2 linked regions of the Homo sapiens genome follow. Changing the gene in region 1 together with any one later gene gives a genetic interaction. Each region holds a gene or a part of one and is shown in the gene's direction. Other genes may lie near its edges. The genes, in order: GNL2 and MPHOSPH6.

What was found.
Region 2: changes in GNL2 (region 1) and MPHOSPH6 together harm fitness more than expected from each alone (negative genetic interaction), as found in Homo sapiens cells (one large-scale study listed by BioGRID).

The regions. Positions count from the first base shown.
Region 1 is NC_000001.11:37,582,374-37,586,199, reverse strand, and holds part of GNL2 (nucleolar GTP-binding protein 2), read left to right. Parts: intron 1-2,266; coding exon 2,267-2,333; intron 2,334-3,263; coding exon 3,264-3,422; intron 3,423-3,826. UniProt on the Homo sapiens protein: GTPase that associates with pre-60S ribosomal subunits in the nucleolus and is required for their nuclear export and maturation.
Region 2 is NC_000016.10:82,147,502-82,150,609, reverse strand, and holds the end of MPHOSPH6 (M-phase phosphoprotein 6), read left to right. Parts: intron 1-1,206; coding exon 1,207-1,301; intron 1,302-1,746; coding exon 1,747-1,879; 3' UTR 1,880-2,448; downstream 2,449-3,108. UniProt on the Homo sapiens protein: RNA-binding protein that associates with the RNA exosome complex. Involved in the 3'-processing of the 7S pre-RNA to the mature 5.8S rRNA and play a role in recruiting the RNA exosome complex to pre-rRNA; this function may include C1D.

The DNA.
Region 1 (3,826 bases):
AGCTGTGATTATTAGGAATATATTTCTATGTCAGTACATAATCAACAATAATATAATATTTATTGTCAGAGTAGTATTTTGTTTGTTATGGCCAGTCTCATTGTTGGACATTTATACTGTGTATAGTTTTTCCTTATGGTGAACAACACAAGGATGAAGCATCAATGTGACCGCATCTTTTTCATCCTTAATTATTCCCCAAAGATAAGTTCTTACGGAGCAAAGCATGATATCAAAAGGTATGCATGCTTTTTGATAGGCAGCTGCCACATTGCTCTTGAGAAAGGGTTTAATTTCATTTCCCTTGGGCAGTGCTAGAAAGCTCTCATTCTCGTCCATCTCATGTCTCTTAAATGAAGTGGAGGTTTTGCTGTCTTAGTGAAGAGGCATTGTCCTTTGACTGCATCAGTGTTATTACCTCATTGCTATTGTCAGCCCATCTTCAAGCATTGGGCCACCTAGAGATAAAATGTCAAGCCATTTGAGGCCAAGCAAAAAGAGGCAGTGAGTTCATTTATTTGTTCTTAGAATTATTTGAACTTTCGTTGGCTTTGTATTCTGCCGATTTGAATTTTTCCTTCCGCAACAGGTATAGTAGGTAATGCAGTAAAGACAAAACTATTTTTGTTTACCTTGGGTAAATGTCCTAGAGACTAGTAAATAAACAGATTCTAAACCTTATCAGAAAAATACTGCTGTATATGGGAGCTATGGAGTATAGGTTGTGATTCAGGTCCTGCCAATTCCATTTTGTAATTCTCTGTGACATACTGCCTAATTCAGTCATGCTTTTTTTTAGTTTAATGTTTTATTGTGGTAAAATATATGTAACAAAAAATGTGGCCAGACGCAGTGGCTCACACCTGTAATGCTAGCACTTTGGGAGGCTGAGGCGGGCGGATCACCTGAGGTCAGTAGTTTGAGACCAGCCTGACCAACATGGTGAAACCCAGTCCCTACTAAAAATACACAAATTAGCTGGACGCAGGGGCGCACACCTGTAGTACCAGCTACTTGGGAGGCTGAGGCTGGGGAATCGCTTAAACCCGGGAGGCGGAGGTTGCAGTGAGCCAAGATCGCACCACTCATTCCAGCCTGGGCGACAGAGCGAGACTCCGTCTCAAAAAAAAAAAAAAAAAAGTACTCTTCTAACCATTTGATGTGATCTCGGCTCACTGCAATCTCTGCCTCCCGGGTTCAAGCGATTCTCCAGCCTCAGCCTCCCGAGTGGCTGGGATTACAGGTGCCCGCCACCACGTCTGGCTAATTTTTTTGTATTTTTAGTAGAGACAGGGTTTCACCATGTTGGTCAGGCTGGTCTCGAACTCCTGGCCTTATGATCCACTGCCTCAGCCTCCCAAAGTGCTGGGATTACAAGTGTGAGCCACTGTGCCCAGCTCTTCTAACCATTTTCAAGTGTACAGTTTAGTGATACTAAGTTCATTTACATTGTTGTGCAATCATTGCAGCTATCCATCTCCAGAACTTTTTCATCATCCCAAACTGAAACCCTGTACCCATTTAACACTAACGGTCCGTTTCCCCTCTCCCCCAGCCCCTGGTAACAACATTCTACTTTCTCTCTCATGAATTTGACTGGTTTAGGTGCCTAATATAAGTGGAATCATACAGTATTTGTCCTTTTGTGTCTGGCTTATTTCACTTAGCATAATGTCTTCAAGGTTCATTCGTGTTGTAGCAGGTGTCAGAATTTTCTTCTTCTTTTTTTTTTTTTTTTAATTAATTATTTTTTGAGACAGGGTCTTGCTCTGTCACCCAGGCTGGAGCAGTAGCCTGCTCATGGCTCACTGCAGCCTCAACCTCCTGGGCTCAAGGAGTTCTCCCACCCCAGTCTCCCCAGTAGCTGGGATTACAGGCATGCACCACTATGCCCAGCTAATTTTTGTATTTTTTGTGGAGATGGGGTTTTGCCATGTTGCCCAGGCTGGTCTCGAACTCCTGGGCTCAAGCAGTCTGCCCTCCTTGGCCTCCCAAAGTGCTGGAATTACAGGTGTGAGCCACTGAGCCAGCTGGAATTTCCTTCTTTTTTAAAGTTGAATGCTATCTTGTGTATATATGTGCCACATTGTGTTTATCCATTTATTTGTTGACAGACATTTGGGCACACTTTTTAAATTCAGTTTGTTTCTGGTCCATCTCCAACTGGGTTTGATACTGTTTTTTTTGGTACATTGACTTTACCCTAAAGCATCCTTTTAGTCTTGATGGTGCTTCAGTTGCTCATTTGGGGTGCTTTCTTATTTAGAAATGAAGCTCAAGAAGAGATCTATAAAAAGGGACAGTCCAAAAGAATATGGGGTGAGCTCTACAAGGTAAGACTCCTAAATTCTCTCCCATTGAGTGGTTCCTTGGGCTTTCATGATTTTGTAGAAGAAAACTAATTTTGATATATTGAAGCTCTGTTGCGCAGAGTACAGGCACCACTGCCTGTTCCATCCTCTTCCTCCTACAAAGAAACTCGGAAGGCGTACTACCATTGATCTAGGTAACTGCATTTTTTAAAGTACTTGTATAAGAGTAACAGCTATCTTTTATTATACAATCACATATTTATTACCTGTCAGTATTTTTTAAGATTTCCTGCCAAATTTATCATGCCTAGTTAAAGTCACATGCAACATTTTAAGTTATTTAGTCCACCCCTCTCCTTTTATCGATGAGGACTCCTGTCTAGAAAGGTTTAATGCTGTACCTAGCTCGACTAGCTTGTTAGTGAAGGAGGCTTTGTATATCTTGATTTCTGATCCAGTGATCTTTAACCGGCAGAGGTTTATGTCCATGCACTAATAATAACCTTCAGAAGAAAAATTTTCAAGTATAATCACGTAATTAAATAGTAACATGATAGGAAACTAGTACCGTGAAGGCAAGCTAAACTTTGTAGTTTTTTGTGAAATACACAAAACCTATAATATTACAAACTTAAAGATAATATTACAAACTTAAAGAAGTCTAAGAAGTAAATGATTTAGTTCAATAATCCATAGTAGTTAGGAAATAAGTTGAGTTTCATCTAAGCTAGTTTTTCTGTTTTAAATTCAGCAGGTTTCAAAAGCCACAGGATGAAAAACCTTTTGAATTCTGATCACTGGGCCTTGAGATTAGCCACAACGAACTCTGCCCAGAGACTGTTTTGAAGTTGTCTCTAAATATTATTATTTTATTTTTCCCAGACTCCCTTAAATGTCATCCCTCTTTTATTTGTACTGTAGCAAACCATTTTTGCCTTTCTGAATTTTCAGGTGATAGATTCATCAGATGTTGTAGTTCAAGTTCTTGATGCTAGAGATCCAATGGGTACTCGTTCCCCTCACATTGAAACTTACCTGAAGAAGGAAAAACCTTGGAAACACCTCATTTTTGTACTTAACAAATGTGACCTTGTTCCAACCTGGGCAACAGTAAGTACAACTACTAAACCAGAATAGACTATTAAGACATCTGTTAGTAAGTCAGTTGTAGGGCTTTTAGGCTAAAGTGTTGTCCGGCTGAGATTGTAGTAATGGGAGTGCTCTCATTGGAAACACGAAAGTGTGCTCATTGATAGTGGGCAGAGGCACCAGGAGACGGCTTCTGAGGCCACTGCCTGCTTCACATTATGCTCCATTAATTGCATTTAGTAACAATGAAGACATTTTTTGGAATATTGTTTTGTATTTATAAGACAGAAGAACAAAGCATTAACTGTTATACTTGGAAAAAACATTTCAAAGAATTATAGCTAACATTTTCCTTAGACAACAGTATATTTGAAACAGTTCTGTAATTCAAGCTCTGATTCTTCCACATAATGTAAATAAATGTA
Region 2 (3,108 bases), on another chromosome or scaffold:
GTTTCCAGACATTTTCACAGGTTCCCTGGTGGGGAAAATCATCCCCAGTTAAGAACCACTTCTCTAGGAGCCACAGTTAACTAAGCCAATTGCCAGAGTTTATTGAAAGATTCTAGGTTAGTTTTCCTTTTCTTTTTTGGCGGAGTGGGAGGAGGCATGTGTGATAATTAAGGTGTTATGTTAGAAGTGTTTGTTTTTAATATATGCTGGTCTCGCTTTGACTTTCTTTAATTAAGCTTCAGATTGAGAAGGAGAGGGGCTGGGCAGTGGGGTGAAGAGGGAAGAAAAAGGCAGGGATTATGAAGATGTGGTATTCAAAGAGTAGGGTTTGGATAGGCGAGCATTCCAAAGTATGTCTGCTGCAATGGGAAAGGAGAGGTGCCACTGCCCGCAGAAATTGATGGGGGGCAGGGACGGGTGTTAGAAAATGGCCCTAATTACTGGATTCTGAAACACTGAATACACTCCCCCTAGGAAAAGGTTTTAAACTATTATCACTCTTTTAAGCCTTAGAAAAACTAGTTAAGACTGATTTCTCATCTTTTATTCCTTCTCCTCTTGCTAAAAAGAAGAGATTACACATTTAAAAAAAAAAAGGTCAGAGGATAATTATCACAAAAAGGTTTATGTGAAAGAGTTGGAGGAGAGACCCTGTGGTGCATGGATGTTACATGGGATGCATTATCCACTCTAAAGTTTAGGAGGGTAAGGCTGAGGTGCAGATTCCCTCCATTAAACAGGGCCAGCCTTCCACTTCTCCCACCTCCTCCACTCACCACCACCACCACCAAGAGATGCATTTAAAATTATTACTGACGACTAGTGTTTCTTCCATATGGCTTAAAGATGGGTGGGGGAAGTTCAGGGAAAATCTGAAAGTTTATTATTTCTTCCCCCACTCACCGGAATGTGTCAGCAGTATGCCTGCTTTAAATATGAGTAACTAATACTAAGATTTATGATCTTAAATACACTTTAAATTCACCCTAAGTATAATTCAGTGGGGCTTTGCCTTACTATTTTTTTGACTCAGAGCTTACTTCTCTTACACCATTGTGGTATCAAGTATTACAGAGAGTCCCTTATCAATTTTGACTAGTTCTCTAGATTATTTGACTTCAGTTTCTCTGCCTTCAGGTAAGTTTGACATCAGTTCCTTTCACAAGCGTTTTCTAGCCTGAAGGTCAGCACTGGTGTATTTTTCAGAAATTGATGCTTCAGATGAATGCTAAGCACAAAGCAGAAGAAGTTGAAGATGAAACAGTAGAGCTTGATGTGTCAGATGAAGAGATGGCTAGAAGGTAACCGTGCTGCGCAGCAGCCTTCTAATCTGGACCTAGCATTCATTGGCTCTCCCAGGAATGCTCCTCTTACCCCACAGTGCACGGCAGCTTTCAAGGGAGTCCCCCAGTAGGACGATGACTGTGATCGGCCTTCTCTTAATGGCCTACGGGGGCCACAGACCTGTCTCAGGCTGCCAGTTGAGGGCCCATTTCCAGAGCTGCTGGAAATGTGTATTTTAAAATGTACATCTCTATTTATTTAGGGTAATGCAAACACCAAAATGGCAAGGAATTTAATCACTCTTAGAGAAGTTCATAAATTGTTAAATCAGATGGTTTCTTTTAATGATAGTTTTCTTTTTCGTAATCTTTTTTATTGCATATTTGGTCTGATATTCTTGACAAGGCTTGATCCCTACCTTTTTATTTGAAATTAAACGTGTGCTGCCTGTCCTCTTGACAGATATGAGACCTTGGTGGGGACAATTGGGAAAAAGTTTGCCAGAAAGAGAGACCATGCCAATTATGAAGAAGATGAAAATGGAGACATAACACCAATTAAAGCAAAGAAGATGTTCTTAAAGCCCCAGGATTAAGATGGATGCCTTAAGCGATGGCCCAGGGGTGCTTGGTGGAAGTCAGCAGGGCATCTGGAGCTCATCCCAATGGTGTCTCTATAGTTATTAATACTGTAACGTTTACTTGTAAAGAGATTATCATTTTAGAAACATGCTGTTTTTGAAACAGATGTGTGATGGATGTTGTACATCCTTTGCTTCTTGGTATTCATTCAGAGTGGATTTTTAGCCCCTGATCTACAAATGTACATTGTTACAGGGCTGCTTCCTAAAGATTTTTTTTACCTCAGGTTTCTCTTAATATAGTTCTCCAGTCACTGACCTTGAATTGACTTACATAAACTACTGCCAATGTTTAAATTGCCCTTATGTTTATATTTATTATGTCAAGCCAATTCGTACATACAATTTGGAATCAAATGTCATAAGAATTTATTATATAAATTTATCAAGAATAAAAATGCCTCTCCAGCCTTAAGTATTTACATGCTCCCAGGTCATTGTCAGTTTATGGTATTATGTTGTTTTATTTAAAGCATTGAATTGATAGAAAAATTTGCTCTGTAATAAAAATCTACTTTCACATACTTTTTATATTTTCTTGTACTTTCAAATAACAATTTTAGTCTAATTCAGTAATATAACTTTTTTCCAAATAATAACTTTAAAAAACAGCCATTGATCAGAATATAGTGATGTATTAGGTTGAACCATAAGAAATTGCCTTTTACAGGTCAAAAATAACCTTTAGTTTCTTACGGTATAACCCAACAGAATTTACCACTGACCAATGGTACCATCTCCTAGTCTGAACTCTATTCTAAATGCTAAGTACAGAAAGAAGCACATAGAATTAAGTGTGTGTATGTGTGTCTGTCTTTCTGTCTGCAGATAAGTACCTAGGACTTCTGAGAACTACTGATTTAATTTCGCTCCCAGGAAGTGAATGAGGTACATGTCTCCTCTCTCCTCAAATCTCTGTAAGGAAGGTTTTATTGCTCTGTGACCTCAGTTCTCTGGTGAGTTATGAGAAAAGATAGGACTTTGAAGTTAATCTGGCCTTTTTTTTTTTTTTCACTGTGAGTATGAGAATGATGCACCTCCCAACTCTGGGAAGTAACGAGTTCTTCCCAGTGCCTTACCAGCACCACAATCCACGGACTTACTACCGGACTTACTACGTGTCTTATGTACCTGTCTGCACAGTCGACTTCTGATTGACAAACTCATTTCACCATAAAAGAAGT